3 separate regions of the Homo sapiens genome follow, and regions 1 and 3 are each linked to region 2. Evidence: fine-mapped expression QTL. A gene starts in region 2. Each other region holds a variant in brackets. All regions are shown on one strand. Distances are between the middles of the regions.

Region 1 (4,243 bases), 140 kb before region 2:
TGCACCACTGTGGATGCTGCACCACTGCGGATGCTGTACCAAGAGTTCTGAATCCAAGGGCAGATTGTTATGAACAGCCCCTTTAAAAGTCTTAAACTTGATACACTGGTCTGTCAGCAGATGTGCAGAGCCTCTTATGGGAGACACAATTTTTGACTCATGTGATTCAATGTCCATAAATCTTCATCCAAAAGATGCCCATAGAGACAAAGAGCAGAGTAAAGTCCTTGCAGCAGTGTTTCTCAAACTTAGCCACCCACCAGAACTGCCTGGGGAACTATAAAAGATACCCATGCTGAATCCCACCCACCACGATTCTGGTGTAATGCTATGGGGTGAGATCTGGACATCAGGATGTTTGGAATCTCCCCAGGCTCATTGAACATGCAACCAAGACTGAAGCCCACTGTCCTCAGTAATGTGCCCAGCCCGGCCTTCCTGGCATCCCCTCATGGGTACAGGATGACAGTTTCTCACTCTGACCCTTTCCTTTATTCAATACAGCACAGCACAATCCAAGAGGGTGAGCACTGTTATGACAGAGAACCTGGAGTCGGACCTGATTAAATGTCTTCAACAAAACCAGTGCCAAGCCTTGGCCATTCAACTATCAATTACTACTTTCAACCCAGGTTCTAAAGGCTCTTCATTAGAAACATCTCGGGTTGGTAATGATTGGGGCAAATGTGCCCTTTGGATTTGATTGCTACCATGATTATTAATTAACCAAATTGTAGAGATATTGAGTACATTTCTCCCTCTTGTTTGTAAGAACCCATGAGAGACAAGGCCAATTGCAGACAATGGGGACGTCCTCATGATAGTGAGATGAACTGCCTAGCTATCTTCCAATATCGTTACTTCCCTCCAGTTTTGTTGCTTGCAAAACAACAGAATCTTCTCTCCATGAAATCATGGGTATCAGTTAGGAAGTAGCCCACTTGGTTCTGGATTTCGTTTAGAGATTTAAGATAGTAACAGAGGGTGCAGGATGACGAACAGCATTTGTACACTGTGTCTGGTAGTGGAAAATACCCAACAGTGTACTGTATGCTGACTCTGTCATTTCCTGCCTTCTCTCCTCCTTTCTTCCCTCCCTCGCTCCCTCCCTCTCTCCCTCCCTCCTTCCTTCCCTCATGAAAGCATAGCTCCTTTGCCATTCTTTCCTCCAGTCACAAGCCATCTACTTATGCACATCACCATGCTCATGCCATTACCAGGGGACTTTCTATCAGCATGAAGACATGAAAATGCCTGGGGAAGAAAAGGTGTGGGGAGCAGGCAGCACCCCTGCAACTGCCCGGTAGCATTTATACATTGCTCTTCCACCTTGGTTTCTATCCATGGCTTTCCTCGTCAGAGCATGTTCACTTTAACCTCCTCTAGAGCAATTTCTTGGATCCTTCAAGGGCTTGAGAACTAAACACAATTTCAAAAGAAACTGAGTAGGCACCTACCTTCTGGAAACAACATCCATAGAAAAGACTTGATTGCTATGGTCTGATTTATGAACCTGTGGCTCATATCAAGATTAGCATTTGCACTAGCATTAAGGTATTTTCATTGAGATCATTTATGTTTTGAAATAAATACTACAACATCAAGGAACTGTATCAGTTGGAGAATAGAAGTGTGTATGATTTGTGTATATAAACATGCACATCAAAGCATTTATTTATTTCAGAGAGTTGTATAACACCGTTAGAGTAAAAATTGAGTGATTCTCTTCTATTTCTGACCCTACTTCTAATGTCTTCTCTGTCCCTCTGTGCAAAACCATTTAAACCTTTTATCTTGGTTTCCTTTGTGAGAAAATGGGGATAATAGATACCCCTGAGCCATTCTGGAGACGTGTTTTGATGCCAGCCCAGTTATGTGATTATAGGAGAAAAAAGCTTTGAGCTTTTGGCACTTAGGTGCTACATAAATATTATTAGCAAGCTGCTGAGATTTTATCTTTGGAAACTAACAAGCATTTCTCTTCTAAAGCCTCATATCTTTAGCCCCTGGACACATGTTCCTGATAGCTCTCTCTTTACAGAGATCCCCTTGGCTCCACAAGGATAGAGAGTTCTTTGCTGAGAGAGTCACTGCCGCACGCTCAGATGAAAGGTATTCATTCTGCTTGGCAGAGTCATCGGTAGAGTAGCTGCTGATCCCAGCAAGGCAGGGTGGGTGATGGGAAGGGATTAGATTAGGAAGAAAAGGGATCCTCTTGTTCTCTCA[C/G]TGAGGGGACTTTAAACCTGCAGAAGCACATCAGTGAGCGGACTATGGGTAAGTGCCAATGTGCAAAGTCGATGGTGCACACGTTACAGGTTGGTGAGAGATGATGCCACTCAGACCTGAGTGCACCGTGGAACTCTCTTGACTTCTCTCTGCAAATGGGTTGCTCCTGGATGTATAGAGTTATTCTACAGGAGTCCTGCTCCTAACTCATCAGAAACGTAATGTCCTCTGTTGATCTCAAAGGCATTTTCTTCTGTTAAAAGTATTATCCATTCAGCAATATGGAGAAAGGTCATTTGTGAAAATAAAATAGAAATGTCTGATGGTAGTGGGGGTGGGGGGTGTAATTTCCTCCCTATGTGAGTAGCATTAAGTTCACTCTTAATTTTTTTCTTCATTTCTGTAATTGGAGACTGATTTATCAAGAGGATATAGAATTCAATGACTAATTCCATTAAATGCTTAAAGAATAAAATAAAGGTAGAACTCAAAAGGCTTATTCCTGATTAGTTTTCAAGATGTGTCTAGGCACAGGAAGTTAAAAATAATACCACAGTGAATGCTCTGACCCAGTGCTAACAAAAGCTTCTTTTTTTCGGTGAGACTTGGCATAGAAAAGCACACATGTCATTCAGCAGTCCTGAAAAATGATGACTGAGATTTGGACTGGTTTTCCAGGGAATAAAATTGAGTGACTTTTTAAAAAGTTCTACTCCTAGAATCCGGGATCTAATCAATCCAATATCAACTTCAAGGGAATAGGCCAACAACCAGAGATGAAATTAGAAGAAAAATAATTAGAATAGCAAGCATAGGTTGGTTTTCCATGCTATGATTCTGCAGCAAAGGTGGTAATTTGGGAATACTGATTTGGGGAATCTCTTGTCATGGGAATAAGTTGTCAGCTTTGCTGAGTGTCTCCGGTGAGCTAAAACTGATTAAAACAGAGTGCTGGCCCTGGTATGTAAGCTCTAATCTATACTCCATATCTACCACTAGCCATTTTGAAGGAGGAGAGTTCCCTGATCCACCTCACAGGAAGTGCAACAGGCGTGTGGCTCGCCCGCTTGGTCGCTCAAACCCCTGATGGGAGATGGAGCACACAGATGGGCAGGTGCGGGGGCTGGAGTGAGTGCTTTGGGCTCCAGCCCCGCAGTAGTGTCTGGGGAGGGGGGGTGCCTGCAGCCTAAGGTTTACAATGCTCTTTTAGTCTTGCTGTCTGCAAATGGCTTAAGTGTTAACCAGCTCAATAGACCCTCTGCCTTTTCACAAGGGCAGAGGGCCAGTGTGACAGCTTTCTGTATTCCCAGCTTTTGCCCAGTGTCCCAGAAGAATTGGGTCACACACACAGGCTTGAAGGATGAATGTGGGGTTTTACTGAATGGTGGAGGTGGCTCTCAGCAGGATGGATGGGGAGCTGGAAGGGGGAATGGAGTGAGAAGATGATCTTCCCCTGGAGTTTGGTCATCCAGCAGCCAAAATTCCCTCTGACCACCCCCAGTTTAACTCCTGGCATTCACACGTTCCTTCCCTTCTCTCTTTCTCTGCCGTGTCATCTGCCATTTGTCTGCTTGTCTCCTCATCTCCTCATCTGCTTCTGGAGCCTGGGGTTTGGGGTTTATATGGGTACAGGATAGGGGGACATGGCAGGCAAAAAGGCAACTTTTCCCACTTAGGGCCGCGGGTCTCCAGGCTTGAGGGTGGGGACTTTGCTGGGGAACTGCCTTCTTTACCCAGTATTTCCCTGTCTCCTGTCCATATCAATTTCATGAATGTGTGGTCACAACATGAACCCAGAATTTGGAGGTTGGAAAGTAGGAGTGAATGCACTCAATCTACTAGGGTGCCAATTCGTAGCATCTAATTTGGTAATGATGAATTAGCAATAGAATCTTTTGGTAGGGGCAGACTTGGCGAATCTTCAAATGTAGCAGGATTTTAAAACGAATCGAATACTATCTCTCAGTCAATACAATTACCTCCACCACTCCCCAGTTCCTAATTCAAGGGTTATATT
Region 2 (4,243 bases):
TACATAGACAAACAGAACTTCCTAGAAAAATGCATTCAAAATTCCCGAAAAACAGACCTATTGTAAAATAACTCATTATAAATTGATAGTATATTGTTATGCAAACAACAGATACACTGAAGTGAGGTGCTAAAGAATGACAGCAGGCATAATCTGGTAGATTAAATTAAAGTGGCACATCTTGGAAAGCTGTGTTTTATATTTACACATTTGGTGAAAGAATGGGATAAACAAAGGTATATTTCCAAGAAAGTTTTGCAAGGCCTTACCACCTCAAAGAAGAGGTAGGGCAGGAAAGGAGGAAATGGGCAGAAAATGAGGGGGGGGAATAAAAAGAAGCAGGGCTTATTTTTCCAAATAGCACTAATTCTTGGTTATCTGACTAGATCAGAGGATTGGGTAACAATGTGAGGTCAATGCTTGTAATGCCATTTAAGTCACATTCATCACTTCAGGGCATGGCTATGTGTGAATCTAGAATCAGAATTAGGCACCAAGCTCATTTAGAAGTTTAATAAATTTAATTTTAATGAGACATCTTGTTTGGTATTAAAATTCATGAGACTCCCAGAACAGGTTCTCTGGACCTTTATTAGAGGATAAGAAATTTATTTGACAATTTAACTTTTTGACCACCGGAGTAGGAAAATTCATGTCTACAAACTATACCTATGTATCCCACAAGCTTTCTGAAATTGAGTCATTTCAAATTTAGTAGCTGCATACACCGTTGGCTCCAATTAGTGACCTCTACGGGGATTTTTTTTTTCCTTTGGAATTCATCAGTTTACACCTCTGTGTTCATAAAATGAAGAGAATGGTTTCTGCATGCCTTTTTAAAAGGAAACACTGCTAGGGAATTACCCAGCAATATGATGAGCAGAAACAAGGTCACATTCACAATTTAAGATGAGCTCAACATCATTTATATTTAGAACTGGATCAATCCAGAATCGTTTCTCAGCTTGGCTTATTAGCTGTGTGACCTTGGGCAAGTAGCTTTACCTCTCTGAGCTGCAGGGTTTTTTTTTTTTTTTTTTTTTTAATTAGTGACATGCAAATACTTCCTCCTAACTTGCAGGGTTTTGAAATGAAGGAATGATATACGTAACCAAGCAGGTCAGCTGTCTACAAAGAGTATGCAGACATGTTTATAGATATATGAAGCCTCCTGGTGATTATGTGTCATAGTGTTAACTGTGTCAAGGCTTTCGGTAGAGCTCAGCATAGTTCTGTCTTGAGTTAAAAACAGGGTTTTATTCTTTGAATTCTACTTGAATTCCTCTTGGCTGGTGAAGTTCACATGTGCTAAGACTGACTACCTTAGTACACTGCCAAGGGTTTCTTAATGCCTCGGATTGATAGAGCAGCTGTTCTCAAACGTTCACGCGCTTAAAATGCAGATTCTGATTGGGCAGGGGTAGGGTGGGGCCCCAGCTTCTACATTTACAAGTAGCCCACAGGTGATGTCCCCGGTGCTGGTCACCCTAGGCAGCCAGGCCACTTGACGGACCTTCTGTGCCTCTACACTGTTGACGGCGCGGGATAATTCCTTATGGTTGCATAGGGCACTCCTGTGCACTGCGGGAAGTTTAACAGTATCACTGGTCTGGACTCCACTAGATGCCAGTGACCCCATCACTCCTCGCCAGCTGTGACAGCCAAAATGTCTCCTGACATCGCCATTGCCAGATGCCCTCAGGGCTGCAAAACCGCCAGGTAGAGAACCGCTACCATGCAGGATGCTACCATCAAAGTGCGCCCACAGCAGCAACCTTGGAGCAGGCAGGCAAGTATCCTCCAGGCTACTTTGCAGACGGGGAAGCTGAGGCTGGGCACCGCTCAAGGTCGCACGCATGCGTAACCGAAAAGAGAGCGCGGAGGTCCCGCCGCGCCTCGCTCTGAGGAGAGGACGCGGAGCCGCGCGCCCGCCCGGTGGACCCCAGGGACTGCTCCCACGTGCTCCGGCCCCACGCGCGGGCCGCCGACCGGAAGCGGGTGCTGGGGCCGCGTAGACGCCGCGGCCACGCGCGCCCGCCAGCCCGGACATGGGCCCGCGGGCGCTCCTGGCCGCCGCCCGACTTCGGGGCCAGCCGGGGGCAGAGCGCGCGGGAGCCCGAGCGTCCCTGCATGAACACCGCCCCGCCGCGGCCCCCAGGCCGTGACGTACCCCGCGCCGACCGTCCCCACGCCCACACAAGACCGCCCTTACTGGAGGCGGCGGCTGCACACTACCCACCCAGAAGAAGTCCGTCCATGTCAAAGATGAGGTGGGTGACGGGCTGCGGGGGCGCCGCCATGGTGGCGCCTTCTGGGTCTGGGTGGGGGCGAGGAGGAAGTGCGCGCGCACCCGCCCGCCCCGCGCACGCGCACTGAGGACCTTCTCGCGCGCCCGGGGTCGCTCTGCGCACGCGCCTTCCGCGGCCCCTCGCCCGGCTCCGAGCCCGCGCGTCCTGGGCTGCCTAGTGGCGCTCCGCGCACGCGCACCTTGGGCTTTCGCCGCAGCTGTAGCTGCAGACCCGGGATGCGGCGCGGGCCGGCGCTGTATGTTTACCCGCATCAATTCCTCCTCACTTCACACCCGGAATCGGGCCAAGCTACTCAGCCAGCGGCCGCGCAGAGCCGAGGCCCTCGTCTGGGGACAAATTCAGTGCTTGAGTTTGGATCAGGGGTGTGAATGAGGAAGGAGGGACAGTACAAGGGGCTGTAGAGTGGGGAAAGGGGATTGAAGATGCTCAGGGTGGTATCACTTCTAGCCATCAGGTTGCAGACAAATGGCCTTGGTCAGGAGGTCCCTGGGTGGGTTCGCCCGAGCCCCCAGTCCCTGGACCGTGGGTGGGTTTTTCTCAGTTTCGCTTGCCCGCCTCCTTGCGGTCCTGGACCGCGACTTGAACCGGCAGCCGCGCATGCGCAGTGTGCGGAGAGGCTGCACAACCTCCGTGCCTGCATCTCTGAGCATCCCAGGCTGGTGCATTGTCCCAGAGCAAAGCCAAGCTGCTCAAGGAGGATGCTGAAATAATACTAACAGTCAACATGTCTTGCTGGTTGTGCCTTCTTAGGTATCATCTGTCTTTTGGGCTGCTCTGAGTTTTCTTTCTTTTTTAACTTTTCAAATGCCACCTAAACAGCTTTCTTTTTTTTTTTTCCCGTTTGCCATCGTCAAAAAAATACTTTTTTGTCCCTGTTTCTATTTCGTGTTCGTTTATGTGGTATATTCACGTTTAAGGAAAAGGATTGGACCTTTTGAGAAGCGGAAATAGGAGAATTTCAAGACTTTAAAAACGTGAGGGTGTGCTGGGCGCAGTGGCCCACACCTGTAATCCCAGTACTTAGGGAGGCAGAAGTGGGAGTTGGGGGAATAGTTTGAGCCCAGAAGTTTAAGAACTGCCTGGGCAATATAGCGAGACCCTGTTCTCCACAAAAGGGGAAAAAGACAAAAAAAAAAAGGTGTAAACATGAGAGTGTATTTCTAGTTTAGTGCAGACATAGTGGACAGGGGCATGCCTGGATTCAGCAAGAATTATTATCTATGATAGACAAAGTGCACCTGTGTCTGTTTCCTCCTGGGTAAAATGGAGGTGATAAAGGAGGTGAGGCAGGCCAAGCCCTTAGTACCAGTGCATAATATATAGTCAATAAAATTATGTGTTCTTAGAGGTGGTACTATAAGAGAGCTTCCCCCATTTAATGCAATCGTGATTTCCCTTTGAGGACACGGGATTTCAGAGAAGGCAATTTATGAGCAAATTAGGTAGGGACTTGCGCCTCAAATACAGTCGTTCGTGGTTTCTGTATTAGTTTACTACAGCTGCCATAGTAATATACCACAGACTAAGTAACCTAAACAGCAGATGTGTATTGTGTCACAGATCTGGAGGCCAGAAGTCCTAGATCAAGATGTCAGCAGTCTTAATTCCTTCTGAGGGCTGTGAGGAAAGGACCTATTCCAGGTCTTTCTCCTCAGCTTGAACCTGCTTTCCTTTCCCTGTATCTTGTCCTATCGTCTTCCCTCTGTGTGTGTCTCTGTGTCCAAATTTTCTCCTTTTATAAGAACACGATTCTTATTGGACTAAGGACCACCCTAATAACTACATTTTAATTTGATTACCTCTGACAAAATCCTGTTTCCAAATAAGGTCACATTCTGAGGTAGCGGGGATGAGGACTCCAACATATATTTTTGGGAACACAATTCCATAATAGATGCATTGCACACACATAGCTGTGGTACCTACAGTAAGTA
Region 3 (4,243 bases), 92 kb after region 2:
TGTACACACAATGCGTGGTGTAGATAGATAGATAGATAGATAGATAGATAGATAGATAGATAGATAGCACATTGTTTTTATCCAGTCATCGTTGATGGACATTTACATTGATTCCATCTCCTTAGCTCCAGGTAGATTCAGAGAAAAAGCATCAGATTATAGAAGCATAAACATCACAGGGTTTTAGACATGATAGGAGCCTTTTTATTGTACAGCTGTAGAAACAGGGACCTGCAAAGACTGGGTGACATGTCCAAATGTTGACAGCTAGTTAGCAGCAGCAACAGGATGGCAGCTACCATCTCTGGATCCATTGCTGATTGTCCTCCCCTCCATCTCATGATGCATCAACTGGAGCAATGACAGAGAAGGGGGAAAATAAGGGGAAAGCCAGGAGTGGTGGCTGACACCTGTAATCCCAGCTACATAGGAGGCCAAGGTGGGAGGATTCCATGAGTCCAAGAGTTTGTGATAAACCTGGACTACATAGCGAGAACCCATCTCTACAAAAATTTTTTTAAAAATTAGCTAGGTGTGGTGGTGCATGCCCGTAGTCCTAGCTACTCAGGAGGCTAAGGCAGGAGGATTGCTTGAGCTGGGGAGTTCAAGGCTGCAGTGAGCTGTGATCGTACCACTGTGCTCCAATCTGGGTGACAGAGTGAGACCTTGTCTCTAAAAATTGTGTTTTTAATTTAAAAAATTAAAAAATCAGCAGGAACCAATAGAATCTTCACACATGCAACACTTAGTGTGTCTTCACTAAGTGAAGACTTCAGTGTAAAGACTTCAAATGTAAACAAACAGGTTAGGCAAGGCTTACTTTTTTAAACATAATTTTTAATTAGTATTTTATTAATACTCAATGTATATTATAATGAATTCAACTATACTAGGTATAATTGATTGTATTGAGAAATACAAAGACCAATGCACCAGGTACTGTTGTATAGTCGATAGAAACAGATTCGCTAAATCAATAAAACATGAACATTTATTTTAGAAAAATCACAAGTGATTTAAATAGGTATTTAAATCTATAGAAAAGTCTGTTTAGACACAATTTCAGAATGGGTTTTTTCTGTCCTCATGTCAGACTATTTTTCTTTATCGATTTAAAACAGGACCTTTGTTGGATAATAGCACTTTGTGAATCAAATTTCACCAGTGTACATACCTTGGATTGAACGAAGCTGCTTTTCTTCTAAAAAATATTGTTTGTCGTGCAAGTTTTTCTCTGTTTTTAATAAGCCTTCTTCCCCATCGAGCAAATAGATCAGGAACATTTTCTTTGCTGTGGTTAAAGTTTCTGTTACGTAAGCACATTGTTAATTTTCTTCTAATGAACAAATTTAATATAATTACATCTCTAGTTATAAAAATGTTCCTTTGTCTCTCTCTTTCCTAATGATGCTGTTGTAGGAATAGCTGCTTTCTCCACAAAAAAAGTTTTTCGTGCTCTTTTGCCAAATTAAGTTTGTTCAGAAAAATAATTTTTAAAGGGAAAATTATGCAGTTTTTCAGAAGTTAATGTGCCATGTTCTTAATATTTTGGAGTGGAGCAGCTTTATTTAATTTTAAGTACTTTTATGTTAACTGACTCTGTTTCAGTTTTTTGAAACCTCTTTATCAATACCTTCTTGTAAGCCAGGCTTGTAGGAAAGAAAAAGCAAAGTCCACTTACTTCTGCTGGTAATAATTTATATACAGTGGGATTCTAAGTGGCTTTTTTTTTTTTTTTTTGAGACCGAGTGTCACTCACTCTGTCACCCAGGCTGGAGTGTTGTGTCTCGATCTCGGCTCACTGCAACCTCCGCCTCCCAGGCTCAAGCGATTCTCCTGCCTCAGCCTCCCGAGTAGCTGGGACTACAGGCAAGCACCACCACGCCCGGCAGATTTTTTGTACTTTTAGTAGAGACACGGTTTCACCATGTTGACCAGGCTGGTCTCAAGTGATCCACCTGCCTTGACCTCCCAAATTGCTGAGATTACAGGTGTGAGCCACCCTGACCAGCCTTAAGTGGCTCTTAACAAACTTAAATTTTCACACATTCTTAATTGGGCTAGATGGTATTTCTCATCCTAGTCCTGATAATATCTACCTCCAGGCACATTTTGGAGGTATAATGAATGATATGCTGAGCTAACCAAAATCATTTTGTGATTCAGAGATTAATATAGGCATGAAAAATTATTAATGGGCTTTTATCCTATTGTGTTCAATTTCAATAAAATGGTCTGCACCTGAACTAACCCTTTTACCACAAAGCATAGAAAATGGAAATGAATCTTCTCCAAGGAGCGCGCGCGCACACACACACACACACACAGATATGTATGTGTGTGTGTGTGTGTGTGTGTGTGTGTGTGTGTGT[G/GTA]TGTATATATATATATATATATAAAATGGATCCCTTCTATGATGGCATCTTGGTGTGGAACAAATTCATAATCTTAATCCTCCAGTATTTTTAATTGTTCCCTACCCAGCTAATGGGACCAGTATCTTTCCAAGGAACAAGGCTGAAGTCATCATTGACTGTTGCCTCTTTCTGACACTTCACATCCAGGCAATTACCAGCTCATGTTGATTGTGTCTCAAATCGGCTCAGTTCTCTCCAGTTCTCTCCCACCTGCCCCTGTGCTAGTCTGGACCAGCTTCCTTGGGGGGTTATGGCCATTGTCGTGCGATCCACTCCAGTTTCTGCCCAACCCTTCTGCCAGGGAGCAACCAGAATGCCTGCGGGAGTGAAACGAAACCATGCCTGTCATCCCTAGTGTCCTCAATCTCTGCTTCATCACTTCTGGATAAAGATAAATGCCCCAAACCTAAAACAACAGAAAGGAAAAAGATAAATGCCCTCCATGTCTGATCACGATGATTTATCCTGACCTCTTCTCCACCTCACAGTCAGACTTTTGCATGGAAAAAATAACCAACCAACCAATGCGCACAGTTTGTAGGAATACTGCAACATCAGCAACTTATACAATAATGATAAAAAACAAAGAACATGGAGAGAAACACACATATTACCTGAGTGGCTCTCTGAGTGGCTGGTTGATGTTTCTCTTTTGTACATTTATAATAGTAAAAATACAACAAAACATTTATTTAAAAAAATCAATTTTTGTGTACAAAAATCACAAAGCATAATAGTCCAAAGTAGGTCTCTAAATAGCTAGGTTTTTTTGGTGAGATTTTAGTTAGTCCTCATATAGAGCCTGAATTTTGCTCTATTTAATCTCTTTTTTAGCCATTTCCCTTTGGTCTACCCTAAATGCCCTTTTCTAATTCAGGTGCTTTCAACTTTCAGTTATAAAACAAAAATTCATTTTTACATGGTTGCTGAGCAGAGACATGTGTCCTTAAATTGCTTATATAAATTCTGAGACTCATTACTAATGAAACATGTTCTTAAAATAAGTTCAACATGACATTTCAGAGCCGCTGTCCTGGGGAGCTTTTTTCTCGTCCTCATTGACAAAATTGACCTTCTCACCTCAAGCTATTGGAGTTATCTACTACTGTGTAACAAATTACCCCAAAACTTAGCAGCTTAAAGCAACTTGCGTTTGTTATCTCATTGTTTCTGTAGGTCAAAAATCTGGGCACAGCTTAGCTGGATCCTCCTTAGCTTCTACGTCTCTTTCAGGCTACTTCAGGTGTCATGGCTGTGGTCTCATCTGTGGTCCAAAAGTAGCAGGATCTCTTTCCAAGCTCATTCAGATAGTTGCAGGCAGGACTTAGTTCCTTGCAGGATGTTCACCTGAAAGCCTCATTTTTTTTTGCTGGCTGTTGGCTGGACACTTCTCTCTTTTTCTTATAACATGGGTCTCTCCACAATGGCCACTTACTTCATCCACAGCCAGCAAGCGATAGAGTTTGCCAGCAAGATAGAGGTCATAGTCTTTTACAACCCAATCACAGAATTGACATCTCATCACTTTTTCCATATCCTACTCATTGGAAGTAAATCACTAGGTCCAGCCCATACTCAACAGGAGGCGATTGTATCAGATGTGAATACCAGAAGGGAAGTCACTGGGGCCACTTTTAGTTGGCTGACCACATTTTTGTTCAAAACTCTATTAGTGTACTTATTATACTCTACATAACATTTTATTATTATTAATAGTTGTAATTTTAATAATAACTTTATAAGTTAATAATAACTTAATATTATTAAATAACTATAATGAACAACTATGGCCTCTTACTATGATTCCCTTGCTGAATCAATAAGTACTA

Which allele goes with the higher level. Positions count from the first base shown, and alleles are read on the strand shown. Sizes are in standard deviations (SD) of each study's normalised expression. Not every link is listed here.
For the expression in B cells of the gene that starts at base 2,340 in region 2, allele G in region 3 goes with a lower level than allele GTA (moderate effect, 0.62 SD a copy in CEDAR).

The links. PIP is the estimated chance that this variant, and not a neighbour inherited with it, causes the effect. A credible set is the group of variants that fine-mapping cannot tell apart.
Region 1: its variant is the best candidate, but not a certain one, in a credible set for the expression of PUDP in tibial artery (GTEx, PIP 0.84).
Region 3: its variant is the best candidate, but not a certain one, in a credible set for the expression of PUDP in B cells (CEDAR, PIP 0.52).

Annotation. Positions count from the first base shown.
Region 1 is chrX:7,010,382-7,014,624 of GRCh38, forward strand. It overlaps LOC107987331 (a long non-coding RNA gene), which reads left to right and starts at 2,118. Exons shown (of 3, transcript XR_001755781.2): 1 at 2,118-2,274. It also overlaps a transcript of PUDP not described here. The variant C/G (reference allele first, on the strand shown) is at 2,227.
Region 2 is chrX:7,145,814-7,150,056 of GRCh38, forward strand. It overlaps PUDP (pseudouridine 5'-phosphatase), which reads right to left and starts at 2,340. Exons shown (of 4, transcript NM_012080.5): 1 at 2,240-2,340. The coding sequence starts at 2,300. STS (steroid sulfatase) reads left to right here and starts at 1,899. Exons shown (of 11, transcript NM_001320752.2): 1 at 1,899-2,270. It overlaps MIR4767 (microRNA 4767), which reads left to right and starts at 2,047; the gene lies at 2,047-2,124. RefSeq lists a silencer at 1,860-2,579 and an enhancer at 2,770-2,819.
Region 3 is chrX:7,238,159-7,242,401 of GRCh38, forward strand. The region is part of intron 2 of STS (steroid sulfatase); the gene reads left to right. Among named protein-coding and RNA genes, the nearest start is that of PUDP, 92 kb to the left of the region's middle. The variant G/GTA (reference allele first, on the strand shown) is at 2,373.